Linked DNA regions of Homo sapiens. The protein of the gene in region 1 interacts with the protein of each later gene in a biochemical or structural test. Each region holds a gene or a part of one and is shown in the gene's direction. Other genes may lie near its edges. The genes, in order: TDG, DTL, THRA and RXRA.

Region 1 (7,917 bases):
AAAAAAAAGGAAAGTTAACTGTAAAACAGCCTCGGCCGGATCCTTCACAAGGTACTCCAGAAAGCATTGTTATCATAGGAGATGACGACTCCCTGTGGGTTATTGCCCTTGAAGACCTTCCAGGATGTGGAGGTGGAAGACAGTGATACTGACGATCTTGACCCTGTGTAGGCCTAGGCTAATGTGTGTGTTTGTGTCTTAAGTTTTTCACAAAATTTTTAAAAGTAAAAAAAAAAAATTAAAAACAGAAAAAAGGCTTATAGAATAAGGATATAAGAAATTGTTTATAGCTGTACAATGTGTGTTTTAAGCTAAGTGTTATTACAAAAAGGTCAAAAGTTTAAAAAATTAAAAAGTCTATAAAGTTACAGAAAGCTAAGGTTAATATATTATTGAACAAAGAAAATTACTTTTTAATAAACTTAGTGTAGCCTAGGTGTACAGTGTTTATAAAGTCTACAGTAGCGTACAGCAATGTCCTAGACCTTCGCACTCACTGACTCACCCAGAGCAACAAGGAGTTCTGCAAACTCCATTCATGGTAAGTGCCTGCTACATTTTTTATCTTTAATACTGTTTGGTTTTGTTGTTGTTGTTGTTGTTGTTGTTGTTGTTGTTTTGAGACAGAGTCTCGCTCTGTTGCCCAGGCTAGAGTGCAGTGGCTCAATCTCGGCTCATTGCAACCTCTGCTTGCCAGGTTCAAGCGATTTTCCTGCCTCAGCCTCCCGAGTAGCTGGGACTACAGGTGCCCGCCACTACGCCCAGCTAAGTTTTCTTTGTATTTTAGTAAAGATAGGGTTTCACCATGTTGCCCAGGGTGTTCTTGAACTCCTGAGCTCAGGTGATCCACATGCCTCGGCCTCCCAAAGTGCTGGGATTACAGGCGTGAGCCACCGTGCTGGGCCTAATACTGTATTTTTACTGTACCTTTCCTATGTTTAGATACATACTTACCATTGTGTTACAATTGCCTACAGTATTCACTATAGTAACATGCTGAACAGGTTTGTAGCCTAGGAACCACAGGCCATACAATATAGCCTAGGTATACAGTAGGCTGTACCATCTAGATTTGTGGAAGTACACTCTGTAACATTGTCACAATGAAAAAATCACCTAGTGACATTTCTCAGAATATGACAAATGACCATATTTTCTTGTGCTTCTATTTTCTTTGGTGATGTATCTGTTCAAATCTTTTGCTCATTTATAAAACTGAGTTGTTTTCTTATGGGTTTTGAGTGTTCTTTTATATGTTCTGGACACAAGTCCTTTATCAGATATGATCTGCAAATATTTTCTCCCAGTTTATTGCTTTTCATTAATTTTTTAAGAGAAGTTTTTAATTTTAATAAAGTATAATTTATCAATTTTTCCTTTTGTATTATATTTAAAAAATATAACCCAGGGTCATAAATATTGTCTTCTATATTTTCTTCTAGAAATTTTACAGCTTTGGGTTTTACATTTAAGTCCATGATCCATTTTGTTTTTTTATATGGTGTGAGGCAGGAGGTGCGACTTGACTCCCAAGGTGGAGCTTGGACACAGGACCAGATTGAGGACCAGCTAAAACAGGGAAGAGGTGGAAGCTCTTCTCCATAAAACACACCAACTAATGTGCCCTGTCAGTTTAGCTTTGCCATGGCAACACCCAGATGCTACCACTCCTTTCCATGGTAATGACCCACTGACCCAAAAGTTACCTCCCTTTTTCTAGAAATTTCTGCACACTCAGCCCCTTGATTTGCATATAATTAGAAGTGGGTATAAATATGACTGCAGAACTGCGTCTGAGCTGCTACTCTGAGCACACTGCCTATGGGGCAGCCTTGCTCTGCAGGAGCAGTCTTGGAGTTGTAACACTGCTGCCTGAATAAAACTGTTTTCAGCTCACTCTTGATTTATTTCCTGGGTGAAGCCAAGAACACTCCTGGGCTAAGGGCTTGCCTGCCCTGTGTCATGCATACAACTTTGTTTTGTTTTTGCATATAGATATCTGAACTACCTTTGAAGCTTAGTTGAAAATCAGTTCATCACTTGTCCATGTATGTGTCTATTTCTGGACTCTATTCTGTTGCACTGATATATATTTCTCTCTCTTGATGCTAATACTACACTTTTTTTTTTTTTTTTTGAGACAGGGAATCATTCTGTTGCCCAGGCTAGAATGCAGTGGCATGATCTCAGCTCACTGCAACCTCCACCTCCTGGGTTCAAGCGATTCTCCCATCCCAGCCTCCTGAGTAGCTGGGACTACAGGCATGTGCCACCACATCTGGCTAATTTTTGTAGTTTTTTAGCAGAGACGGGGTTTCACCATGCTGGCCAGGCCGTTCTCGAACTTCTGGCCTTGGGTGATCTGCCCGCCTCGGCCTCCCAAAGTGCTGGGGTTACAGGCATGAGCCACTGCGCCCGGCTAACACTGTCTTGATTACTGTAGCCTTATAATAATTCTTAAGTCAGGCAGTATTAGCTCTCCCAGCTTTGGCTATTCTAGATCTTTGCATTTCCATATAAATTTTAGAATCATTTTGTCAATTTCTACCCAAAAACGCTTACCTGGATTTTGGTTAGCATTATATTGAATCTTTAAACATCTTCACAATATTTGGTCTTCTGATCCATGAATACAACATATCCGTGTACTTATTTAGTTCTTACCCAATTTCTACCAGCAATGCTTTTCACTTTTTATGATAGAAATCTTGCGTCTTTTGTCAGCTCTATCCTTAAATATTTCATATTTTTGATGCTATTGTGAATGGTATTTTTTCTAATTGTTTGTTGTTAGTACATAAATTACAATTGATCTTCCTATATTGATATTTTATCTTGCAACCTTGCGAATCTCACCTATTAGCTGTACTAGGTTTTTTGTAGGTTCCACAGGATTTTCTACATAAACCAGCACCAGAGCAATGAACAAAGACAAATTGTTTTTTTTTTTATAGATGTCATTTATCAATCTTCAGGAAGTTTACAAGGAAGTTCCCAGTTCTGTTTCCAGATTGCTAAAAGCTCTGGTGGGCCAGGTTCACAAGCAGAAAAAGTTTGTCTTCCAGACTCAGATGCAGGATGTTGAGAGAGAGACACTGATGGGATAAAAGCCAGTTTGCTGCAACTGCTTCACCATTTTTAGGTTCAGTGTCCTCACCGACAACTCCTCCCATAAGCTTTTTTTTTTTTTTTTTTTTTTTTTTTTTTTTTTTTTTTGAGACGGAGTCTCACTCTGTAGCCCAGGCTGGAGGGCAGTGGTTCGATCTCAGCTCACTGCAACCTCTGCCTCCCTGGTTCAAGCGATTCTCCCACCTCAGCCTCCCGAGTAGCTGGGACTACAGGTGACAGAGATGGGGTTTCGACATGTTGGCCAGGTGGGTCTCCAACTCCTGACCTCAGGTGATCCACCCGCCTCGGCCTCCCAAAGTGCTGGGATTACAGGCATGAGCCACCACGCCCGGCCTCCTCACGTTAACTTTCTTTTGCCATGCAAGATTGGGCAGAGGACCCTGGTCTCTTGAGGTTATGAATGGAGCTGGCAGGACCCAGCACAGCAACCCACAGTGAGAGAAGCCCTTGCTGCCAAGGGTAATTCCCCGAGTGCAGACATCCTGAGAAAAGTTTACTCTCTTCACACACATTTTCAGTCACCAGAATTCTCTCCCAAAGCATTCAGCAGTCTTTGGTTAATGTGTCTTTCTGGATGCCCTGAAATAACTGAGGCAAGCCACCTGCTGTAAGACTTTTCTAGACGATGGTCCTGAGCCATTGGCAAAATCAGAGAGGATGGGCTTTTTTCATTCACTCAACATATATTCATTGAATATTTACCATGTGCCAGGTTCTGAGTAGTGTCTACTAATGGACAGGGTATTCATAAAAGTTCTGTACTGTTTTAAACGTTTCACTCAAACTTTAAACAGTTGATATATTACAAAAATCTTTCTGTATTTACTCACGAAAGCCTGGATCCTAGAATGAAGAAAATACATGGAGCACAGAGCCACAGCCATCTCCCAGCTCACAGATCACGTGAGTGAGAAATAAACTTCTGTGGCTGTAAACCACTGAAGGTTTGGAGTTACCTGTTACTATATGAATAAACTCAGGAAAGCCAACAAATACAGCAGCCATGTTTTTCATCATCCTGCAAACTAGAAAAACCCAAAAGCCTATTCCATTAAGAGTTCCTTAATAAAGTACAAACACCAGTGACAGAAATTGAGAACTAATGAAACAAAAGCCAGCTGCAAGAACCACTGAGACATAAAAGAGGGGTTAGTCTGTAAGATTACGAACCACTGAGATTTAAAAGAGGGGTTAGTCTGTAAGGTTATGGGAGGTGATGCTCGAATGGGATCTAGTCTCGTAGACGTCAAACGTTAATATTCTCATATATCCAAAGTAATGCGGAGAGTGGTTTATGTAGAGCTTTACATTTTACATAGCAGCTTTACATTCACCCTCATTTCACAGATAAGGAAACTGAGGCCCAAGATGGCACAGTGGCCTCGACGCCCAGGTTTTCCACTTTCAAAGACCCTCCCTCACATCTCATTACCTGATAATGCAACACAGTCTTTAATCGGGGCGAATTTCGGGGTGGAAAGGACTAGATAATGCTGATAAGCGTCATCATCCCATATACACAGCACCCCAAGGACAGCACCCTATCGCCCACGCGTCCACCAGCCCCCGAAAATACTGGAGACAAAAGCTGACGTCGGCAGAGCGCTCCTAGTCCCCGTCTTCTGGTCCTCCACCCTTCCCGAAAGGCCAAGCGGCGGAGCTGGGGCGCCAACGAGAAGGGGGTGAGCGTGATTGGGCTGTCCTACATCACGTGACGGCCAGTACGCGTGGGATTTGGCTCCGAGGAGGCGGAAGTGCAGCACAGAAAGGGGGTCCGTGGGGGACGGTAGAAGCCTGGAGGAGGAGCTTGAGTCCAGCCACTGTCTGGGTACTGCCAGCCATCGGGCCCAGGTCTCTGGGGTTGTCTTACCGCAGTGAGTACCACGCGGTACTACAGAGACCGGCTGCCCGTGTGCCCGGCAGGTGGAGCCGCCCGCATCAGCGGCCTCGGGGAATGGAAGCGGAGAACGCGGGCAGGTAATACCGGGGCCAGCGCCGCCCCTCCCTTGCGCCCCTCACTGCTGGGCAGGCTGGCTGGCGCGCGCGCGCGCACGCAGGGGTCTTTTAAATCCCGGCCGGAATACAAAGGCCGGGGCCGCGCGTGCGCACTGTGGCCTGGTCGGCCTTTCCTTCCCTGGCTGCGGCGGTGGTGGTGGAGGTCGGGGCTGCTCTGAGGGTTACCTGGTGCACCTGGACCCTTCTTTGGTTCCCCGCGATAACCAGTTGACTATAAAATATATTAGTAAGCATTCAGCAGTCTTTGGTTAATGTGTCTTTCTGGATGCCATTCTTGGCTAGAAGGGTTTTCCGTCACCCTCCATTACCACGCAGAGAGCTGTAAAGATGAGTGTCGAACATTTCCAGCTCCAGGAGTTTTCATTTTAAAGTTGGTTGATTTGTTGCGGCTTCCCCCCACCCCAAAGGCCTACTGAAAGCAACTTTAAGGGTCACGGGTTAGATAATTTTGTTGTGGGCATATGTATACACTCTCGAGTAGTCAATCTAAAAATGACCTTTGAGTTTTCCAGTGGCCTTGGGGACGATCTTAAGAATCCGTTTTTAAAAAGTCCTTTGGGGGAGTCAAGAGAAAAATTTGCAAAAGCAGGAGATTTAGGGACTTGAACTCCTGGCGGAAGACTAAATTTTTAAAAAATGGATATGGTGACAGTTTTTTAAAAGATAAAGAGTGATGATTTACATTGAAATTAAAAGGAAAAAAACCTATGCCTAATGAAGAATTATCCTGACTCTCAGTGGCTAATGGGAGCTGAATTTAGGCAATACAAGGGACTTATATGGGCCTGTTCATGTCTGTAAAGTTGGCATGTCTGGAATCTGATTCTGACATGCCGAGAATTGGTGTTACATGAAAGGGCACACTAACCAAAATAAATTAGAGCTTAGGAAAAGAGATATATGTAGACAAAGTGTGGACTTTATCTTGACTTTGTGGATCAAGTCCTGGAATAAATTACTCCACTTCTTTCCCAGAAGAACTTTACAAATAAGAGAATTCACCAGAATTTGTGGAAATCTCTCTCTCATAACCTCACTTAAGAGCAGAATTGAAACTTGGGCCAAGAATAAATTACACATTGTAAGACTTTATTCAGGGTCTTACAGCAAAATAGTAGGACTTCAATACACTGTTTAGCTCAAAGCTGTGATATGTCGGCCTGACTTCATCCAAAAGGCTATAGACCAGATTTTATTTTGCCTTGAAAAGCTTTCACCTTCAGGAACTGTGGAAAATTCTGTGTAATCTTCTGAAATGACTCAGACCCCAGGTAATCCTTAAGAGAGTAGTTCTCTGTCACCCTTGACTGTGCTAATCAAGAAATGTAATGTGGGATGTGAAAAAAAATAAATTTACTTTTTTTTTTTTTTTTTTTGAGACAGAGCCTTGCTCTGTTGCCCAGGCTGGAGTGCAGTGGCGGATCTTGGCTCACTGCAACCTCCATCACCCGGGTTCAAGCGATTCTCCCGCTGCAGCCTCCCAAGTAGCTGGGATTACAGGCACCTGCCACCAGGCCTGGCTAATTTTTGTATTTTTAGTAGAGACAGGGTTTCACCATGTTGGCCAGGCTGGTCTTGAACTCTTGCCCTCAAGTGATCCACCTGCCTCGGCCTCCCAAAGTGCTAGGATTACAAATGTGAGCCACCGGGCCCAGCCGACTTTTTTAGAAGACTAATTTCAGATATTCAAAGAAGAAAATTCAAATTCCATGAATACAGACTTTTTTTTTTGTTTTTTTTTTTTTTTGAGACAGAGTTTCACTCTGTTGCCCAAGATGGAGTACAGTGGTGCGATCACCGTTCACTGCAACCTCTGCTTCCCGAGTTTAAGCGATTCTCATGCCTCAGCCTCCCAAGCATCTGGGACTACAGGTACCCAACACCACGCCCAGCTAATTTTTTGTATATTTAGCAGAGACGAGGTTTCACCATTTTGGCCAGGCGGGTCTTGAACTCCTGGCTTCAAGTGATCACTTTGGCCTCCCAAAGTGCTGGGATTACAAGCATGAGCCAAAGCGCCCAGCCTAGACTTTATTTCAATGGCAAAATAGTTCAGGAGTCTTAGAAAGTGCTTACAGTCAATCAACCAGAGAGGAATAAAGGAGGAATTTTCTAAGGGTACTGGGGAGTTTCCCGTGACCTCAGGCGTGAAAAAGACATTTACCGAAGATGGAAAATAGGATGCCAAATCAAAAGTAACTGGAAGAGAGTAGCATGGACCACTAAGAATACCAACAGGAAAGATTAACCCTTGCATGAGAGTAGACTTTATAGAAATGTTAAGGAGACCAGGAAGGACTGTTTTGGTTAGATGTTGACAACAAGAAGAATAAAAAAGATTTGGGTTTTCTCCCCAGTCTACTGGCATGGTGGCAGCAGACAACAGAACACCTAAGTACTTTGTTCTGATTTGGATTTTACATCTCCTATGTTAGCAAAATGATTGTCTGACTGGAAATGGCAGAATGAATATCTGTAAGACTTAAAGCTCAAGACCAGTGAAGGCATTTAGGAGAAGTTTCAGGTGTTCTAACAGAATCATATGCCTTGGCCTGCGTGTGTTGTGTTTCAAGGGAGAGGCCAGATTAAAGCAGTGTTAGAGGATTTGTAGCAAATGTAAGGGACCTGGAAATAAACACGTGGGTTCCTGTTCTTCCAGAGGTGGAGTCTGTCCTCTGTTGACATTGATCCTGAACAAAATTTTTACTTAATCAATGGTTACTGAGCATTTTTAAAAGAAACTAATTGACCGGGCACAGTGGCTGACGCCTG
Region 2 (7,038 bases), on another chromosome or scaffold:
CGTTTTTTAGCACCTTGTTCCCTTGATGGTAAAGATTATGATGCCCAAGATAGAATCTTCTTCTTTTCTTGTGCTATCAGGATTTCCAGCAAAGTGTTACTGTGGTCCTCTTTCAAGACGAGAATACCTTAGTCTCAGCAGGAGCTGTGGATGGGTAAGAGTCTATTTCTTTTTTCTTCCGACGAGATCTTTTTTATGAGATTGTGATGAGGCAGTCACATAGTCTCATTATAATTGAATGTGTGTGCTTTCAACTGTCAACATAGCAAGTACCCCAACTGAGGAAAGGAGCTATAGATCACATTGGAAAATACCTAGTTGAAGGACTCTTGCTGGATAATTAAATGAAAGAATACATGTGTCACGCTTAGCACATTGTCTAGCACATAAGAGCAGTGGTAGCTGCTGTTGCTATCTTAGAAAAGAAGCTGGCTGGGTAGCTTGCTTGCCTTATGCAATATAATTTAGTCACTAATTCTCATTTTGAAGAGTAAAATTTCTGTTACTTTGGGTTTTGTCTTTTTCAGGTTTAAGAATATCCTAAAAGAAGAAATCTGATTCTGGGGATGTAATTGACATTTCTGGGAGTAATCTAACTAGATTGATGATAGTAAGGTCTAATGACTTTCACATACCTGTCATCCATGATTAGTCTGAATTCTTGGCTTCCAAATAAGTCTGCTCTGTGATGCTTGTTGATTGTGTTGTAGAATATTAATTCTATGCAAATGGAGACTCTTTCTTTTTAAGTTTCCTTCCTATTATATCTCTCAAGGCATCCTTCTCTTAAAATTTTTAATTTAAAAGATGATGGCTTACCAAACTAGGATTTCCATTGTGTCCTCTGGGCACTAAAACCCTCTGAACCAAATTCTCAGGCAGGAATGAAGGATTATCTAAAGGTTATTAGTTCTGCTTGTGAATGACTGTGAAAGCTTGCTCTGTTTGTTTCCAAGAATACTGTCATTTCATAGCAGGTCTGTGTTTTCAAGTTACCTTTATACTAGAAGTAGAGGATTAAGACAATTATCTCAATAGATGAAATGAAAAAATACTTTATTTCACAGAACAATTTGTTTAGATTATTTAAAGAGTTATGTATGGAGATATAACCACAGGGACAGAACTTGCTACTTATGATATCAAAAATATATGCAGAATATTAAAGGCTTAGGAAGTGTATTTTCTAAAAACAATGGAACAATTACTATCGGCACTCAACCTTCATCTTCCTTTTCCGTTCTCTTAGAGTAAACTCCAGTAACCCATCACTGGGTCAAATCACATCTGTTTCCGTTCTGTCAGAATTATAAGCCTGATATTGGAGACAACAGTATAAGATACTTTAATTTGTTTCCCAATGAAATATCCTTACTGTACCTAGTTAATGTGCCAGAGGAGTTAGATTAAAAGTCATTTCACATTTAGTGTAGTTGAAGTTGTTTGGGGTTGGAAGAAGGTCTACAAAATATTTATTTGCCTTGGTTTTTAGGATAATCAAAGTATGGGATTTACGTAAGAATTATACTGCTTATCGACAAGAACCCATAGCATCCAAGTCTTTCCTGTACCCAGGTAGCAGCACTCGAAAACTTGGTAAGCCTTTAATAGGTCTTTTGGGGGAGATAAGAGTTTTTGTTTAAAAAAAAAAAAAAAGGCTAATTTCCAGTAACATTGATATGAAAAATTCTAATATGTGAAGTTCAAAAGATAAAAACTCAGAAGAATGTTTTTGGTTTGTGTATATTTTGGGGACAAAGAATTCTGATGATGATTCTTATGAAATGATCTATTTTTGTCTCTACATTTTAACCTCAGATCTACTCACCATCATCAGGACGTGCTAACTTAAGTTTCCTTTTTCCAGGATATTCAAGTCTGATTTTGGATTCCACTGGCTCTACTTTATTTGCTAATTGCACAGACGATAACATCTACATGTTTAATATGACTGGGTTGAAGACTTCTCCAGGTAAGATATTAGTCATTCAAATTCTCTTACCAGGAAAGCATTATGGGCTTTTTTTGGTAATGATAATTTAATGGGCTTTCTTCTAAACTGAACTTATTAAGCCATATGAGGACTTTGGCATCTTTGATTACATCCAGTGATAATTTCATAAGTGTACATTCCTTGTGATGATTTCATAAGTTAGCTGAATTGTGCTTTACATGGTGACTTTATTTTAATAGAGAGTATCTCCTGAAATTATGCCCTTTGGCCTATATTTAGAATTCTCTCAATTTTTTATTTAATAAGCTGTGGAGTAGATAAAGTGCTTCTGCTCAGCTTTTTTCCTCTTTAGGGGCTGCTGGTTAAAATTAGGGGGCTGAAATTTTCATACCCCCAAAATAGTTTCAGCCTATCTCAGCCTTCTCCTTAATGTTAGAGGCCCTTTTATTTCTAGATGTTTTCCCCAGCCTCACCTTTTTTTTTTCCTCAAAACTTTAAAAATAGAATCTGATACTTAAAACTAATAAATAAATGATAGTTTTAAAAAGAAAACCCAAGTTTCTCAAGCATGCTTTCCTCTTTTTTTTAATCCTCTCCCCTCCCTCTTCCAAATCACCAGCCTCAGGCATGCTTTAAGAGAGTTATTTGGGTTACATTATTTTTAAGAACATCAATTTCTTAAGCAACATCTTAGTAGCCTGGTTATTCCTCATCTATAGATCTTTCAAAAACACTTTGAATTCCATAACCAATCCTCAGAGTTACCCAGTTTCCACTAAAGTAAAAAGTGCTGATAAACAAGAAATCTCAAGTACAGAACTTGTTTTATTTTATTTATAGATAGATGTAGATATAGATATAAATTTTTTTTTTTTTTTGAGACGGAGTTTCACTCTGTTGCCCAGGCTGGAGTGCAGTGGTTCGATCTCGGCTCACTGCACCCTCCGCCTCCTGGGTTCAAGCAATTCTCCTGCCTCAGCCTCCCAAGTAGCTGGGATTACAGGCGCCCGCCACCATGCCTGGCTAATTTTTGTATTTTTAGTAAAGGCAGGGTTTCACCTTGTTGGTCAGGCTGGTCTCGAACTCCTGACCTCATGATCCACCCACCTCAGCCTCCCAAAGTGCTGGGATTACAGGCGTGAGCCACCATGCCCGGCCCAGAACTTGTCATTTTAGCTGAGATCTTACAGAATTTTCCAAAGATCACCCCAAGCAATCTTATTAGGACTTTAGTATCGGTGGCAGCATCATAGTCTGCATTTCTGATACTTTGCACTGGGTCTAGTTTTCTCTAAACAGGAGCAATAGTATTTAGAAAAGGGAAGAGGTGTTTCTTTTGCTATTTTCCTTAATGGAATCTGAGCTTGGAGAGCTGCTAATTTAGTTAGTCAAATAAAATAGACTTTTCAACATCTTTCCTTGAAAGATAAAGCGTGATCCTGATTATATTATCAGATGTACAAGAGCTCTTTCTATATAATTTTTGCTACAGTGTGGCACTGAAAAGGTCCTTGAGTTTAGTGTCCTGCTGTCCAACACTTCGCTAATAATTTAGTAAACCTTTTCTATGCTTCTATTTAATTTCATTTGCGCAGATGGATAGATAGGTAGATAGGTTAATAGATCGATTTATTCCTTAAAAATTGAATGACAGCTGGCCATGGTGGCTCACACCTATAAACCCAAGCCGAGGCTGGCAGATCACTTGAGCCCAGGAGTTCGAGACCAGCCTGGGCAACATGGTGAAACCTCATCTTGACAAAAAGATGCAAAAAATTAGCTGGATGTGGTGGCATGCACCTGTAGTCCTGCTACTTGGAAGGCTGAGGTAGGAGGATTGTTTGAGCCTGGGAGGTTTGAGTCTTCAGTGAGCCATGATCTTGCCACTGCACTCCAGCCTGGGTGACAGAGTAAGACCCTGTCTCAAAAAAAAAAAACTGAATGACAACTGTGTGTGTGTGTGTGTGTAACGTCTTGTAATTACTTGTCCTTTTCAAAACTTCTGAATCGATCTTGGATTCGATACTTGATCTACCATGCTTTGTATTATGGTGTTTATATGTTCATAAGGATGACTTGGTTGGAAGTACTTGAAAAGCCCAGATCACCAAAGCAAGATTAAATTGAGCTCATTAAAGCCAACATACATTTTAGGAGGATTTTTAGCAAGGTTTAAACATTTACAGTGCATATCATACCAGCCTTTCTTAGACCAGCAGAGGGCAATAAATACTTACAGGTGTAGTGGGAAATTCAGGCTAGAGTTTTCCATTCATAGTTGAGAGTTGAGGAAGATTAAAAATTACAGTTTTAGAACAATGTTCAGAATAAAGGAGCTTGTTTATTTTGCAGTGATAATAGGTGTATACAAATTGATTCATATCCTGCCTCACTTTCACAGTAAAAATGTCTGATGTGAGGAGTATTTGCTATGCCTGCATAGCTTTTTCCTTTAAAGCTATAAATACAAAGTTCTTTTCCAGCTTTATTCTAGAAAATGGAAGAGATTCCTGTGAGCACTTATGGGAAGCTGTTAAGTCCCCTACTAATACTTTTCTCTCTGGAGTGTGATTGTTTTTTCCTGCCTAAAGGTATCCTTAAATTCTCCAATAATTGAGATTTTTCTCTTGTATTTCCTAGTAGTGTTCTGATGTCAGAGGCCTCAGGTTTTGACCTTCTTAGGATAGAAGAACCTGTTAAGAACATATGCTAGATTGGGTTACCTGCCCTTTTGCCATTGAGAGTGAGAAGGCTAAACCTAATCTAGTGCCTTACATATAAACAGTTTACTCCACTAGCTCTTCCACCATTCAGTCTACTCAAAGTGCTGGATTAAAATGATTCTCACATCCCACATAAGCTATTAGTAAGTTTTAACCAGAACTCAAATGATACTTTTCACTGATTTTTTTTTTCCTTTTCATGGAACAAATGTTTGAGGATCTACTCTGTTCAAAGCACTATAAAGTCTAGTGAGGAAAAAGTAAGATATAAAATTTATCCTCAAGAGGCCTGAAGTCTAAGGGGAAATTAGATGAATATATTATGCAGTGGAAAAAATCCTACCCTGGGCTGGAGAGAGAGGGTCTTATAAAGGCATTTTACTGCAAGTTGGACATTGGCTGGATTCTTTTTTTAAGGAATGTTTTCCCTCCAATTTTTTTCTCTTGATATTGCCATTTTCGTACCAAGTACTCAGACTGAGTTCATGAGATTGGATCTAATATAAAGCTTCCTTCTAGGGTTTTGTTTTTCTGCCAATGTCTAGTTCCCTTGTATTTGATGGATAAAGCTAGATCATCTGCTTCAATAGGCAATACAGTGATAAAACTTGTTAGAATATATATGCTGTCTATATCCATTTGACCACTAGAAATAACAAGAGCCAAGTAATTTGGTTTTTTTCCTCTGGCAGTGGCTATTTTCAATGGACACCAGAACTCTACCTTTTATGTAAAATCCAGCCTTAGTCCAGATGACCAGTTTTTAGTCAGTGGCTCAAGTGATGAAGCTGCCTACATATGGAAGGTAAGTTGCTAAACTTCACCCACAAGTGTTAGACTGAAGTATTCTTGCAAATATTTGTTCTGTCCAATATGAGATAAGTTTAATGTAACCACGTGCTATACTATTCCTGCATCAGATATTTAGTAAAGGTTGCTCTTGGCTCTTAATATAGCTGAAACCTTACTCTACTACAGAATGTATGACACTTTCAGGGCCATAGCTTGTCAGAAATTGACAATTTGTATCCTCTGTTTCAAAAATTATTAGGAAATTGAGAATTCAGAGGGTGATAAGAACCTTAACTACTTTGTCCTGCATCCTGGAAAACATGCTATACTGACTTTCTGCCCTATGTTTTCAAACTCTCGTTCAGAATACAGTATTTTGATCCCTAGGATCCTGTGCTTGAATCACCCATGGAGCCTTGCACAAAACAGAAACTCAAAAATATTTTTATGATTAATTTATTCTTTATTCTCTCCTTACAAGTAGCTGATCTTCAGGCCACTAAAGTAGATATGGCTGCTTTATCAGATTTTTATATATTTAATAGCATTATTTACTAATCTTTTTTTTTTTTTTTTTTATTGAGATGGAGTCTCACTCTGTCGCACAGGCTGGAGTGCAGTGGCACGATCTTGGCTCACTGCAAGCTCCGCCTCCCAGGTTCACGCCATTCTCCTGCCTCAGCCTCCCGAATAACTGGGACTACAGGTGCCTGCCACCACGCCCGGCTAATTTCTTTTGTATTTTTAGTAGAGACGGGGTTTCACCATGTTAGCCAGGATGGTCTCGATCTCCTGACCTCGTGATCCGCCCAACTTGGCCTCCCAAAGTGCTGGGATTACAGGCATGAGCCACCATGCCTGGCCAATAATCTTTTAAATAACTTTTTTAATAACAGTAGTTCTAAAGTGTCTACTGTAAGCTAAGAAATTTAAAGCTGTCCATTTGAAGTCCAGTGGAGAAAATAAAAATGTTAGACAACAGGTAGCACTTGCTTATTACTGAAAAATGTCTCTTGAAGGAATAATTAATTATGGAAATGTTCTGGGAATTCAGAGAATGATCATTAAGGCATTGTTTACCCATGACTAAGAATTAATTATCTTCTAGATTTCCCTGTAACTTCATAAATGTCTTTGACATTGGTGAATTGAATGATTAGAGTTCACATATTTTGGGTTTTAAAGTCATAATGTCTAAAACTTCATAGATCCCATAGTTCCGATAGTATCAAATCCCTTCTCAAGAGAAAGTTATATCATTTTTTATCCTGCCAAGCTCTAGAAAGTAATATTGCTAATTTTTTTTAGGACAGGGGTAAAACCTGTTTAGTATGAAGCATAATTCTTCAGCTTAATTTCTTCCAATCCTGAGGGAAGTACAAAAGAAAAGTGATTTCTATATAACTGGAGTTGTGAAAATGCAACACTACTTTATTAAAATTTTACTAACAATATCCTAAATAGTCACAGGGTGGAAATATTGCTCTATCCAAGATGCTTCTATGTTGGGCCTGCCTTTTTCTACAAGCATATTTCTTTCTTTTGTTATATTTTTAAATGCCTATAAAG
Region 3 (7,038 bases), on another chromosome or scaffold:
GCCCCCATGGGCAGTGGCGGGAGCTGGCAGGACCCTGCTGAGTTGGGTCCACTGCAGGGCTCACAATGGCCTTTCTCCACACCCCTGGCAGCTGAGGCCCACCTCAGAGATGCCCAACAGCTGTGTCCTTTTTGCCCAGCCTCAGGGCCTGGTTCTGAGGGCACAGCTGCCTAGACTAAGTATGTACTAAGCGAGGCCCTCCCACCCGTGAGTGCAGGTTCCAGCCTAGAAGGGGTACCTCTTCTGGAGAGGGAATTTGAGGAGGGGGAACTCAGGCAGGAGACATCGAGCCCGGGGGCACCAAGCACTTCTCGCTATGCTCCCCTCTAGCCTTGGACTATTTGGAGGTGGAGGCACTTGGCAGAGAACCCACAGGGCAGCTACAGAGGGGAAAGACTGAGGCTTGGTCTCAGGGAACACATAGCTGGATGAAAGAACAAGGCATTGGGCCGGGCACAGTGGCTCACACCCGTAATCCTAGCACACTGGGAGGCGGAGGCAGGCAGATCACCTGAGGTCAGGAGTTCAAGACCAGTCTGACCAAGATGGTGAAACCCCATCTCTACTAAAAATACAAAACTTAGCTGGGTGTGGTGGCGGGGTCCTGTAATCCCAGCTACTCAGGAGGCTGAGGCAGGAGAATCGCTTGAACCCAGGAGGTGGAGGTTGCAGTGAGCTGAGATTGTACCACTGCACTACAGACTGGGTGACAGAGCGAGACTCCGTCTCAAAAAAAAAAAAAAAAAAAAAGAAAAACAAAAAAGAACAAGGCATTATCTATCAAGCAGGTGATATACCATCACAGCTAAGAACAGAGATGATGGTGATGATCATGACGGCCATGATTGACCTGGACTGCCTAGGTCTGAATCCCAGCTCTGTCACTTGCTGGATGTGTGACTTTGAGCAAGCGATTTAACTTCCCCGTTGCCTCATCTGTAAATTGGGGATGATCATATCTACCTCATTTAGCTTTTTTGAGGAAAAATGTTTTTAAAAGTGCCTAGTTCATAACAAACTGTATATGTGAGCGGTTGTGATGGGTGAAGGAAGCTGTGGGCCTGGGGTCTCCCAGATTTCTTAGAGAAGCTTCGTGGAGAATTGGGTCTCCTAGACATCAGTGAGACTGGGGCCTGGGGCAGTGGGTCTCCAATTTCCAGCCTTCTCACCGTCATGTAATCTTTTCCTCCCAGACAAATTTTTGCAGCCTGGAATGAGTGTATGGGAAAGAGCCCAAGGCAGGCCCCTCTGCCCCACCCTCCTTTGACCCTCGCCCTTCAGCTTACAAGGAGCCCTTGGCCCCTCAGCCTGGGACACACCCCACCAGCTAGGGGCACCTGCATAAATCTTTGGGCATCACTGCATCTCTGTTCAGGGTCTGAGCTCTGGGGGTGGGAGAGAGAGAACAAGGAAAGCCGTCCCCTCTCTTATGTGTGGGCTCAAAGAGGAGGCAGTGCCCTTCCTCCCTCCTGGGAGCCCAGCATTGGTCAACCAGGACCCAGCTCTGGCTGATAGGCACCAGATTCCCCTGCCCTCCATGGAGTGGTACTTAGTGTGAAAGGTGGTGGCAGAGAGAAACTGAAGCACTGAGTAATGACCAGTGTGGTGGGCACAGCACTTTGAGATCCAGCATCTGTCCTGGGTTGCCTCTTTGCCTTTGTGAGTCTGGTGATCAGGATCCCCTCTCCAAACCCCTTTTATTTAGCCCTGCCCCTCAAGGTGAAGGAAGGACAATGGGAGGATACCCTGTAGGGGTGACGGGAAGCCTTTGGAGTGGGAACCAATCTCAACTCTAGTTCTCGGCTGGGCACAGTGGCTCATGCCTGTAATCTCAATATTTTGGGAGGCCAAGGCGGGAGGATCACTTGAGGCCAGTAGTTCATGATCAGCCTGGTCAACATAGTGAGACCCCATCTCTAAAAACAACTTTAAAAAGTTAGCCAGGTGTGGTGGCGCATGCCTGTGTTACCAGCTACTTGGGAGGCTGAGGCCGGAGGATCGCTTAAGCCTGGAAGGTCGAGGCTGCGGTGAGCTGTGATTGTGCCACTGCACTCTAGCCTGAACAACAGAGTGAGACCCCCCACACACACATCCTCTCAAAACAGACAGAAAACAAAACAAAAAACCCAACTCTAGTTCTCATGGCTGCAAAGGTGTCTAGGGGACTTTGGAGAACTGTTGTGTCTCTTGGGGAGGGAGGCAAGCATGACCGTGGTGGGAAGATCACTGGCTGGGAGTTGGGAGGCCTGGCTGTTGACATTCACTAGTCGTATGACTTTGGGCCTGGGTTTTCATTATCTAGAGACAATGGTTCCTGTCTCACTCAGGTTGAGGGCAAATAACACAAGGTGGGATGACCCCTGTGTTCAATCCATGTTGCATCCTGGCATGGTGAGCAATGCCTGTGGATTCTCCTTTTTTCCCAGGGCCTGGCACATGCCAGGGTGGGGCATACACATGCTGCCTGGAACCAGAGACAGTTCTCAGTCTCTCACTGAAGTATCTGGGGCTGGTGTGTGGTGGGGGCACATGTGGTTCCACCTTGGTGTCACTTGGCAGGCCAAAGCTGGGGTCATAGGGACCTCCCTCCGGTATGCCATTGCGTGAGGTGGTCCAGAGGGAGGGTCAGAAGTTTGCTGGGTAGACAAGGGAAGCAAGATGGGTGTTACTGGTGCCCAGGAAATACTATCCTTGCTTCGCTGTTTTGGGGGTGGGCATTAAAGGTTGATACCAAAGCCTCAGCCATGCCCCTCAGCAGTGGCCAAGAGCAGAATGATTGGACCAAGCCCCTGGCCCACCTCCTCCTCCTCCTCTTTTCCTCTTCTAAAGAAGAGATCGGCTCTTGGCTCCCAGAGCCCCAGCTGCCTGTTTCTTTTTCTCTTTTACCAGGCATGGGGGTGGGGAAACAGGGGAACCGAGGCTTTGGTGTCTTTCGGCATTTTTGTACACATCAGTGAGTGGGTGTGTTGTGCACGCATCCATGTGAGAGTGTTTTTGTGCATGTGTGGGCTGGGGAGGGCTCTGAATATCTCCTGGAACGGTACCCAGAGCCCTGTGGCTCTGCGCATGCGGGGTGAGTGTGTGTGTCTGCACGTGTCCGTGTGTGTGCCGGAGACTCAGCTGCATTCACGCGCGCGCTCTCTCCCTCCCTCTCTCCCTCCCTCTCTCTCTCCCTCCCTCCCTTCCTCTTCCCTCTCCCTCTCTCTCTCCCCCTCCCCCTCTCTGTCTCTCCCTCCTTCTCTCCCTCCCTCTCTCTCTCTCACACACACACTCTCAATCTTTCTCTCTTCCCTCCCCCTTCCTCCCTCCTTCCTATTCCCTCCCTCCTCCCTTTCTGTCCCTGTCTCTCTGTCTCTGTCTCTGTCTCTCTCTCTCTGCCTCTGCCAGTTCTGCTTGGTTAGGGGCTAGCTCCAGCCTCTGGGGTGCCTGGGAGAACATCCCTCCCTTTCTTTCCCCCTCCACCATTCCCTCCCCTCCTAGGCCATGCTCTTCAGGGCTTGCAGGCAACTTCTTCTACTGCCTTAGATGAGGGAGTGAGGAGGGAGGACCCCAAGCCTTGTGCCCATGGTGCCATCTGCAGCAAGTGCCTTGGCCCCGTGACATTCATGCCTCCAGCATTCAGCTGCCCCAGCTCCCAGCTCCAATTACCCGCTGGCTGCTGGGGGAGGGTGGGGAGAATGTGCCGTGCCCAGCTTGGGGGTGCTCCTGCTTCTGCTTTCTTGGCTACTTGGATCTCCTGCCTCCATTCCTGAGGGGAATTGGGCAGGGGGGGCGTGAAGTTCTGTGGGCTGATAAGGAGGGGCTGAGTTCTCCAGCATGGGTGTGGGCATGACCACCCACCAGTGGTCATGGGGGATGGATGTGACCTGGGAGGAGACCTCCAGACCTGGGCACCCACCTTGATGCCTGGCTGGAGCTGGCCCGGGCAGGAGGAGGGAGAGGAGAGCAGCAGGTGGGTGAGGCTATGGGGGAGCCGAGTGGGAAGCAGTCTTTGATGTTAATACTGGGCATCTGGCCCAAGTCAAGGCTGCTGTTTATGTCTTTCTGTCTCTGACCTGCAGGGGGGGTTTCCTGTTATATTCTTTTGGGGCGGGGTGGGGAGGATCCTTTGTTTAAGTAACCAATCTCCCCCTTATGAGGATCCCCACCCCATCTCCCATTCTCTAGCCTCTAAGGTCCCACAGTGGCTAGGTGATGAGTCACTGCCCCCCAGCTCCAGAACCTGTCTCCTGGGGGCCCAGTGAGAGCTCACCAAGGGGTGCCGCCTCCCCTCCTCCCGTCTCCCCCATGCCTGCCAGGCTGGGGCCCTGAGTCTGTGTGTACTCCTCTGCCACATCACACCTGCCAAATAGTACCTTCCTTCCCGCCTTCACTCCTCCTCTCCTTCCTGGCACTAGGATAACAGAGAGTTGGGTGGGGCAGCCCTGCTCAATCCATACCTGAGAATAGAACAGGGGGTATGGGAAAGGACAGGGAGTCCCGGTCCTAGAGAGGCCTCTGCCCCTCAGCATGGGGGCACATGTCGCTGCTGCAGCACTGCCACCACCACAGACTCCCAGGGGCCCTTGGTGTGGGTGGCTGCCTGTGGTGCCCGTGTTGGCATGGGGGGCAGTGCTGCCCATAGACGCCTGTGCCCATGCATGCCCATTTATGTGTCTGGGCCACGGTGGCCGCCCCGGCCCCTCAGCATCGCCCTTCCTGGCTCCCATGGTGGGAGGCTGGGTGATCAGGAGTGGGTGGTGGGGGAGGGATCTCCCCCCACCCTAGCAGCAGGCAGAGGGGAAGGGGAGAGGGAGGTGTGAACCTACCCACAGAACTATTAATAGCCCACATGCCAGGCCACCAAGAACCAGCTGTCACCGTGGAAACCATTCCTACGCCCCCCTCCCCCCAGCCTGCATGGGGTGGGACTTAGACAGGGTACGAAGCCCCCCACCCATCTTTCTTTGTTACCTTTCTCTCTTTGTCTCCCCTCCTTCATGTGTCTCTCCTCCCTTTATCTGTCCTCCTTTCTACCTCACCCCTTCTCCCCATCCCCCATCTCTGGCTCCCCTTTCTTCCTCTCCCTCTACTGCCTTGTCACCCCTAGCTCTACCCCAGCCCTGTCCCATTTCTTTGTTCTTCCCCCTCCTCCCTTCTTCCCTCTTTCCCCCACCAGCCTTTTTACCCCTCCTCCCATCTTTCCACCCTTTTCTCAGCCGCCCCGCATGTACGTGTCCCTGTGGCTGGCAAGGAGGGCTGGGCTTTCTTCAGAGCACTAAGGACAAAGTTCAGGGGCCCCAGAAAGGTGGGGCCAAAGCCCAGAGCAGATACGCAGGAGGGTTAATGCGGGTAGTATTGGGGGTTAGATCCTGGGGACAGAAACTCCCCTCTGGCAGCCCCAGGAGTCCTTTGGGGGTGTCCTCAGATATACAGGACTGCAGAGTGGGACGGCTCGGCAGTGGGAACCTGGCGGGGCGCCCGTGGATGCCGCATTGGCCCCGTGTCCCTGTCCCCCCATGGCAGAAGTACTTAAGCTTAATGAAATGCTTCCCCCTCCACGGGCACTTTGCCTACACTGCCTCCCAGCAGCTCTTATCTCACAAGGAGGGAGTGGGTGGCCAGGCCAGCCGACAGGTGGGTCTTGCTGTCCTGCTGTCCAGCCTGGGCACAGAACCCCATAGCTCCGCCCCCTCGGCCTCCTTGGGGCAGGGCCTCCCTCGCCTCTGCAGAGGAGGTACCAGGAAGGAGTTTGGGGAGTTAAGCTGGACTCTGGAGGAGGGGTGAGAGGCTGCCCTTCAGGGTGGGTACCCCTGCCCCATGCCCCTTACCCGCTGACCTTTTTCTGTCCGTGGCTAACACAGGCTCATGTGGTATGTGTCTCCCCACATGCTGGGCCCTCTGCCTCGCCTCTGTATCACCCCAAAGGCCCAAGTGTGTCCCTGGAGAGATGCCAAGGAGTCCCCAGGGGTTCCAGCCTCTTTCTGGGTACCCAGTGAGGGTGCCCTAGGCAGCAAGGGCAGCACCTTGCTCCTCTGCCCACTACCAGGGGCTGACTGTAGCTGGGCTGCACTGCCCAGCACCAGGGCACCATTCAGTTCAAAAGAGGGGTGGGGCAGAGAGCGAGTCTGCCCCTCCCCCCAGTGGGCACGTGCAGGCCCTTGGCAGTACCCAGACACATTTGGAGTTAAGGCTGGGCAGGAGAGAGGGATGGGGAAATAAACATGGTGGCTTAGGTTGGCACTGCTCCAGGTCTGCAATGTAGCAACTGGTAAGTGGCAGGGGCCTGGGGGAGGGGACCCTCAGGAGCCCTGGCCTGGGGCAGGAGCTGCCCATGCCATGTGGCTGCCACTGGTGTTCCCCGCCTGGCCCGGCCCACAGCAGCCAGTGCTCATTCCTGCACACACTGGTCCTCCTCGGCTGCCCCCAGGACCTGCTCCCCGGGGCTGCCCCTCTCTCAGCATGCCCACTCCTGTGCTTGCCTCCTCCCCTCCCTGGGGGCGCTTGGGCCTCCGGCTGGCGAGTGGATTTTTCCAGCTTCTGTAAACAAGTGGTGGCAGTGTGCCAGGCGGGCAGGAGACAGGCGGGGGCAGCACCACAGCCAGGGTGTGCCAAGCACCGAGGCACAGCCTGGGGGGCAGACGGAGACACCCAGACCCGGAGAGAGAGACATTCAGACACAGACAGACAGACAGACATGCAGGCAGCCTCGCTGGACGTGGAGTCAGAAGATCGTCCTCTATTGTCCAGCCCAACCCCCGTAGCGGCCCTCGCCCCCTGCCCCTCACTGTCTGGCTGAGAGCATTAGGCCCCAGTGCCCAGCCCCTGGGCTTCCCCACCCACTCCTTCTCCTCCCCAACCTCCACCCCTTAGGGCTGGCTACGCCATTATAAATTTATAACAGGAATTTCTCCACAAGCCAAGAAAAACTTGACCTACTTTCTTGATGGCTCCCTGGGCTAAGGCTCCCTGCTCATGCCCCCCCACCCCAGTCTCCTGTCCAGCCCCCAGTGCCCAGTCCTGGTCTGGGGTGGGTATCAGAGGTAGAACGGGCCACTT
Region 4 (7,038 bases), on another chromosome or scaffold:
GTTCCAGTTTTGCCGACGAGGAAACTCAGGCTCACAGTGATTAAATCATTTTCCGAATGTCACACGAGAACGTAGGAGGCAGGCAGAATCCGGAGCCAGGGATCCGCCTCTGGGGCCTCCAGTGCCTCCAAGCGAGACAGCCACTAGACCAGCGAGCCCTGGAGGGCTGGGCAGGGCCTTGTCCCCTGGTGCCTCCCGGAGCCCAGCACGGGGCAGGGCCAGCTGGGCACTTAGTTTGGACGAGCTCTGTCCCTCCAGGGGCTTCACTTTCGCCTTCTGCAGCGTGGGGGATCATGTGTGACCTTGGCCAGCCCCTGACCTCCCTGAGCCGCAGCCTCTGCATCTGGGACACCCAGGGTTTCCCATGCAGGGAGTGTCAAGTGTGGGTGCAAAGCCCAGGCACCGCACCCCTCTGCAGACGTCTGGGGCTTTCTCTTGCCCCTTCAGTTCCCTCCCTTCTCTGAGAAGCGCACCTGCTGCCTGTGGACATGAACACTGGGCATTTGGTGAGTCACACAGTGGCCACCCGCTTCTCCAGTGGGAGCTTCATGGCACCCCCACTGTGCTGAGTTGTCACGGGGGACCTCCTGGCCTCTCGCAGCCCACCTGAGTCCTGCAGGGACCAAGCATCCTTGTAAAGCCTCACAGCCCACCTGGGCAGATCGAGGAAGAACCTAGAAGCCAGAACAAGCTGGGGCTGGAAGACTCATTCCAGGCACCGAGGTCCATGTGAAAGGAGGCTTTGCGGTGGTTTCTGCTTTGCTTGCATTGAGCCTCAAACTCTTCCTGTCCCGTGAGAAGGGGGGATGGGATTTGGAGGCCTGAGGAAGGAAGGAGGGGAGCTTCCTGCGCACAAGCGGCGGCAGGGGTTTGCAGAAGTGGAGGCTGGGGGCTGCCTGGCCAAGCGCTTACCGCCCTGCGCAGCCAGGCTGGCTGGCAGGCTGCAGCGGGAAGCGCCTGTGGGTCCTCGGCGCTGACTGCAGAGCTGGGTGGAGGCAGCGGAACCAAAACTGCTGTGTCACTGCACGCTGCAGCTGTTGCCAGGGTGACCGGGTGAGTTTCCCACGCTTGCCCGGGCGGCAGCGTGCGGGCCGGCGGGTGGGGCGGAGGGGTGTGCAGAGAGGCCAGTGGTGTCGTGCCACCCGATGCCCGGGGGTGTCCACTCCCCTCTCCTGGGTCACGTGACCAGGGCCCCTGCCCTGCGGTGTTGTGGGGTGTATGTGTGGTTCTTGGGGGGGTCCCCAGCCCTCCTCCGTCCTGGGAACTGGGCTTCGGCGTCCTCATGTGTGGGTTGGGACCCCCCAGAGTGCCTGCCTCATGGAGTGTCCGGGGGCACCCAGCGGGGCTGGGCACTGCCAGGGGCTCAGTAATGAGAGGCAGCTCTCATTTAGGTGGGCAGCGGGCAGGGGGTTGCAAGCAGGGACCGCCCATGTGTTGGGGGGGGTGTTGAAGGTCCTTTTCCACAGAGGCCTGGGGTCTGCTGCGGGCGAGTCCTGAGGTTGCCACAGCCTCTGCTGGCCTTGCTGAGCAAGCACAGTGGCCCCGCTGCTCCGGAGCAGCGTGGCGGGTGGGGGGCACGGCCCTCTCTAGCCTCGGTGTCTGTGTGTGAAGTTGGGGGTACAGCTGCGCCATCCTTGCTGCAGGGCCGTGGGGGACATAGGGACAAACCTGGTGTACACCCCGCTGACTGCTGTGGTTGCCCCCCCCAGCTCAGCTCACCTATGAACCCCGTCAGCAGCAGCGAGGACATCAAGCCCCCCCTGGGCCTCAATGGCGTCCTCAAGGTCCCCGCCCACCCCTCAGGAAACATGGCTTCCTTCACCAAGCACATCTGCGCCATCTGCGGGGACCGCTCCTCAGGTACCGCTGCTGTGGGGGCCAGGGGCTGGTGGGACAGGGTTGTCAGGCCATTGCAGGGTCTGGAGGCCTCCCCAAATCACCCTCCTGTGGGCCAAGCAGGACCCAAGGCCAGGGTGCAGGGAGGCAGGTGCCTGGGCCATGCCCCACTCCCAGGGCTCCGCGAGGCCATTCCAGGGTTCTCACGTCTGTGGGACAGTGAGTGTTGGGTGGGGTGGGGCACAGGGCAGCCTGAGGCTTCCGGAGAGGAGGTGGCTGCTGATGGCAAGGTCAGCATGGGGGCAGCCAGTGCTGCGCCTCCTCCCTTGGCTGGGTCTGGGCAAGGGGCCCGTGTTGTGCCACTGACCCCCAACGGCCTGAGAGGGAAGAACGGGCTGCACAGTGCAGACACAGAGCAGGTGACTTGCCTGGGGCCCTGGTCCCTGGTGGGCTGGGATTTGTCCCTGCCCCACTCCTAAGCTGTCCTCGGAGGAGCAGAGAGAGTGAGGCTGGGGCCCAGTCTGAGCCCAGGCAGGGGTCTGGAGACCAGCAGGTCCCTTTCTGAGGCCTGGCCCGCCAGCTGGTAGTGGCGGCGTTGGATGGGGGGTGGGCTCCCTGCCGGGGCGGTGGGTGCTCCCCAGCCCTGCTCTGCCCTGTCCCGCAGGCAAGCACTATGGAGTGTACAGCTGCGAGGGGTGCAAGGGCTTCTTCAAGCGGACGGTGCGCAAGGACCTGACCTACACCTGCCGCGACAACAAGGACTGCCTGATTGACAAGCGGCAGCGGAACCGGTGCCAGTACTGCCGCTACCAGAAGTGCCTGGCCATGGGCATGAAGCGGGAAGGTAGGCCACGGCGTCGGGTGGGGGCGCGGGCAGGTGTTGGACAAACAGTGGGGCCCGGGCTTGTGCGTGGACACCCGAGATGGACAACAGGGAGTGAGTGGCCTGGACAGAAGCATGGCAAGGCCAAGGCAGGAGTGGGGGCGGGGCCCAGCGCGTGGGCACACGTGCGGCCCAGAGCGTGGGCACACATGGGTCCTGGGCGGCATGTTCTGGCTGGCGTTGGCTGTCCGGTGAGGGGATGGTCAAGGAGACCCTCAGGTGGCACTGCTTAGGTTGGAGAGGTGGAGCGGGGGCATCTTCTGAGCTGTTGGATGCCAGGGGTGGTCCCGGGCCAGCTTCCTCCCGAGGCCAACTCTGTGGCACCCCGCAGGGCCGCCGGATGGCCCCCAGGCTCTTGGAGCAGTTCCTCCTTTCCTTTTGTTTTTGTGCTCGTCTTATTAACAAATCTGTGTCGGGGCGGTTTGCAGGGAAGTCCCTCCCCCGATGTCACCAAAATTGTCAAGTCATCCAGCCAGACCTGGGTCGGAGTCCCGGGCCCCACAGGCACTGTGACTTCCCAGTCCTGGCTGGCTGTAGTCCTCAGTTTCCCCATCTGTCACATCCCCTTTCCCTCTCAGGTTTGGCGATTCCTGGCCTCTTAGTGGGTCCCTGGGTCATGGTTTGCACACACGTTTGGGGGTGTGCCTCAGTTCCTCCCATCGGGTCCCGTGCCCTGGGCCTTGTGGAGGTGGGAGGTGCTGTCTGGGGTGAAGATCTGTTGGTCTGTCCCTGTCCCCCCGCTCTGCAGGACACCCTTCCTCTGTCCTCTGCTGTGCTGCTCCTGAGGCCCAACACCTGTGTGGCTGGTGTGTCTTACTTCCTCCCCGCCAGCCCCTGGTGGGGTCCCCAAACAGGACCCACACCACTGTCTCACCGTCAGGGATGTCCTGAGTGGCCACCTTGGTGCTGCAGTTTCATTTCATCATCTCTCTTGTGTATGTCTTCTCAGCCTTAACGGTCCTGTTGAGAAATCAGAGCCTCTGCCAGGCGCCGTGCTCCTGGAGGGTGTCCTCCTTGGGCTGCGAGGCTGAGTGTGGTGTATGGGCTGGTGTGAGGTCCTTGTGCCTGCATAGCAGAGCTGCCTTCCAGAGCTGGTGTGGCCATGCCCAGTGCTGCCAGTCAGGCCTTTCTGATGGGGATTCGTGTTTCATGGAGTGCTGACGTTTGCTCAGGCCCACCCTGTGCTGTGCAGGTTGGGAAACCGAGGGCAGACGGTTCAAGCCTTGCGCAGGGTCACATGCTGGGCCCTGGCCCCCATCCAGACCTTGTTGCTTTCACCAGAGGGCAGAGGAGCATGTGCCCAGCCTGGAGAGGTGTGTGCCCAGCCTGGAGAGGTGTGTACCCAGCCTGGAGAGGTGTGGACCCAGTCTGGTTCTTCCGGGTGCCTGGTGTGGGCAGGGAGGCTTGCTGTGGTGGCAGGTGCAGCCTTGTCCCTGGAAGATGGAAACTGGGACAGGGGCAGGCATAGTAGGCAGTGGCCGGGGCCCCTGTGCCCAGGCGTGGAGACTGGCCTGTTCTGGGGTGGAGGCCCGAGGCGTGGCTGGAGCTGGGGGGGGAAGGCCTCGTGTGCAGCCTTAGCCTGGCAGTCTCTGTGAGGATGCCACAGCACAGAGAGCTTGGTTTAGCCGAGACCACTCTCAGATCCTGGGGGCTTCAGGGAGACCCCTGCGAGCTTGGGGGCAGATGAGAGCGCTGTGCATGGCTGATGCCTGGCCTGGGCCTGCAGCAGTAAGCTCGCTGTCCTTTGAAAGTGATCATCAGATAACCAGGGGGGGCCCAGGGGGCAGCCAGTGCAGGCTTAGGGGAAGCTCAGGCACTGTGGGAGCCCAGAGGAGGCACCTGACCCTGCCTCGGGCACCCGGTGAGACGCAGGCAGGCAGGAGGGCTGTTGACGCCTGAGGAATGAAAAGGTGTCGGCACCACAGGCCTGGCTGCAGGGAGCAGTGTCCGTGAAGTCTGAGGCTGTCATCACACCTGGCCCTCGGAAGTCGGTGATGGCCTTTCTGAGCCCCGTCCCGGACCCTCCAGGCTGCACTGACTCCTTCCTAAGGCCCTGCAGCCCAGTCATCCATGTGCCTGGGATCATCAGACTCCAGCTGCCTGGGCCCCCCAAAGCCTGGGGACGACACCCCATCCCATCCCAGTGGAACCGTGCAGTGTTGGGGCTGGGGGGACCTGGAATCACCTGGTCAGACCGCTCCCCTGGTGCCCATCGGTGACTGGGTCCTGTTAGGAGCAGCTCATGTGGGGGACCACCCTGGACACCCCCTTCCTGATCCCCACACATGGTCTCACTCGCCCCATACCTGTGAGACAGAGAAATGGGGTATAGAGAGGTGAGCCGTGGGGAGGTCTAAGGGCCAGCACCAGGCGTGGCCCCCATTTCTTGCCGGTCCTTCCTGCTTCCAGTCCTTCCTCTTGGCAGCGCATAAGCCCTGGAGACCAGACTTAGGGCCGTGAGAGAAACTGCTGCTGCTGTCAAGGGACCTCCTCCCCTTTGCCTCCAGCAGGATTCTGAGGCGTGAACTTGCAGTCAGAATGCTGCCGAGCGCTCTCGCCCCAAACACAGCTGCAGAACTCAGCCTCGGTGTGGAGGGCACCTCTGCGTGGGCGGTGAGGAGGCAGTGAGGCCCCCGTGCCAAACGTGCCCTGCTGCCAGTGCCTCTCCTTGTGCACAGGGGGAGTCTCTTGCCTCCCCCAGCCTGGCTGTGTGGGCTGCACAGCCAGGCCTGTGGAGCTCCTTACTCTTGGGCAGTAACGGGGCCCCTGGTGCAGCCCAGGCACTCGCCCTGCAGGGACCCCACGTGGAAACGGTGGCTGGGAGGGCTTGGCAGGCACCCTCCTCCCCGGCCTGCGTCTGGGTGCTGGGCAAGACCCCTTGGCTCCAGATGGGTCCTGAAGTGCAGAGCACTCCCCTCTCTCCTCTTGGGCAAACCACTGCAAGGCAGGCTCCCCGACAGCGGAGGGCAGGGCTGTTGGCTGCATGGGTGAGGCATTGCAGCAGCCCTGGAGAAAGCTATGGGGCCAAGTTGGCCAACACTAGGTGCCTGTGGCCCAGAGCATGCAGGATGGGAGCTGTCGGCTCTGGGGACTGAGCCCTCCTAAGTGTCAGGCCCCCTGGTGGGCAGCTCCGCCCACTGGCCTTGGTGTCAAGTGGTCCCTCGGCCCGGTTTGTGATCAGACCCCTAGAAACAGGCTGGAGCTGAGGCGTCGCATCCCAGTGCAGTGCTGCGAGGGAGTCGCCTGGGGTTGGTCCCAGGGCTGGCTGAAGGCAGGATGGCCCAGGTGCCCCCATGCGGTGACTCTGCCCCCGGCAAAGGCCCACTCTGGCTCTGGGGCAGATGGGTTCCCACCCCTATGCGGTAGGATACCACAGGCTGATAGCATCTCAGGTTGGGCAATGGGGCCTGCACGCGCAGGCAGCCACCAGGAGGGACTCGTTCCGCAGCATTCCCGGGACCAGGGGTGGGCAGAGGTGGGGGGACGTGCAGTGGTGGGTGTTGGCCCTCTGCCAAGCTGAGCCTGGGCCTGTTTGCTGAAGCCGGGGAGGGGGCAGGGGTTGGGGGTCCCGCAGGGACACGTGCTCTGATGGGGAAGACAGGCCTCACCCTTGGGGGTTCCCAGTCCGATGGAAAAGACCTAGCTTCCACCCAGGGTCGTCGGGGGAGACATTGGTCTAGAGGGGGCAGTGGCTGTCCCCCATTCTGCTTCCTCCTCCTCCCTCAGGAAGGCTGCTTCCCATTTCCTTCCTGCCTGCCTTTGCTTCCTGTGCCCACCCTCCAGCTCTGAAGGACTGGGTGTGGAAACAGCAGGGTCTGGCGTGTGTGCACCTATGTGTGCACGTGTGTGCATGTGCGTGCACTGCAGGGATGTGGCTGACCCACAGGTCTCTGCTGTGGGAAGGGAGCCCCGGCTGGGCTCGAGTGTGGCCCTCTTGCCTTCTGGCCTGTGAACTGGGCAAGTGACCTTGCCTCGCCCAGTCCTCAGGTTCCTCATCTGTGATGGGCTGGGGGCATCAGGAAGACCCCTGCGAGCTTGGGGGTGGATGAGAGTGCTGTGCGTGGCTGGTGGTGGGGTTGGAGAGCAGTGGTCACGTGTGGGTGTGGGTGTGGTATGTCTGTGTGGTGTATGGGTGTGCGTGTGGTGTGTGTGTGATATGTCTGTGGTGTGGTATGTGTGGTGTGGTATGTCTCTGTGTGTCTGTGTGTGTATGTCTGCATGGTTTGTGTGCACGTGTGTGTGCATGGTTCTCGTGTTCTGATGCCTTGCTCTAGGTTGAAGCCCTGGAGGGAAGGTAAGTCACTCCCTTTAGAGACTCT

The links.
Region 2: of the proteins of TDG (region 1) and DTL, one has a biochemical effect on the other in vitro, tested with the Homo sapiens proteins (one study listed by BioGRID).
Region 3: the proteins of TDG (region 1) and THRA form a complex in vitro, tested with the Homo sapiens proteins (one study listed by BioGRID).
Region 4: the proteins of TDG (region 1) and RXRA form a complex in vitro, tested with the Homo sapiens proteins (one study listed by BioGRID).

What each region holds. Positions count from the first base shown.
Region 1 is NC_000012.12:103,960,955-103,968,871, forward strand, and holds the start of TDG (G/T mismatch-specific thymine DNA glycosylase), read left to right. Parts: upstream 1-4,917; 5' UTR 4,918-5,083; coding exon 5,084-5,106; intron 5,107-7,917. UniProt on the Homo sapiens protein: DNA glycosylase that plays a key role in active DNA demethylation: specifically recognizes and binds 5-formylcytosine (5fC) and 5-carboxylcytosine (5caC) in the context of CpG sites and mediates their excision through base-excision repair (BER) to install an unmethylated cytosine.
Region 2 is NC_000001.11:212,066,732-212,073,769, forward strand, and holds part of DTL (denticleless protein homolog), read left to right. Parts: intron 1-79; exon of another isoform or gene 80-80; coding exon 81-154; intron 155-1,492; coding exon 1,493-1,596; intron 1,597-1,867; coding exon 1,868-1,972; intron 1,973-5,369; coding exon 5,370-5,482; intron 5,483-7,038. UniProt on the Homo sapiens protein: Substrate-specific adapter of a DCX (DDB1-CUL4-X-box) E3 ubiquitin-protein ligase complex required for cell cycle control, DNA damage response and translesion DNA synthesis.
Region 3 is NC_000017.11:40,065,935-40,072,972, forward strand, and holds part of THRA (thyroid hormone receptor alpha), read left to right. Parts: intron 1-6,654; exon of another isoform or gene 6,655-7,038.
Region 4 is NC_000009.12:134,406,440-134,413,477, forward strand, and holds part of RXRA (retinoic acid receptor RXR-alpha), read left to right. Parts: intron 1-120; exon of another isoform or gene 121-1,053; intron 1,054-1,709; coding exon 1,710-1,860; intron 1,861-2,500; coding exon 2,501-2,680; intron 2,681-7,038. UniProt on the Homo sapiens protein: Receptor for retinoic acid that acts as a transcription factor.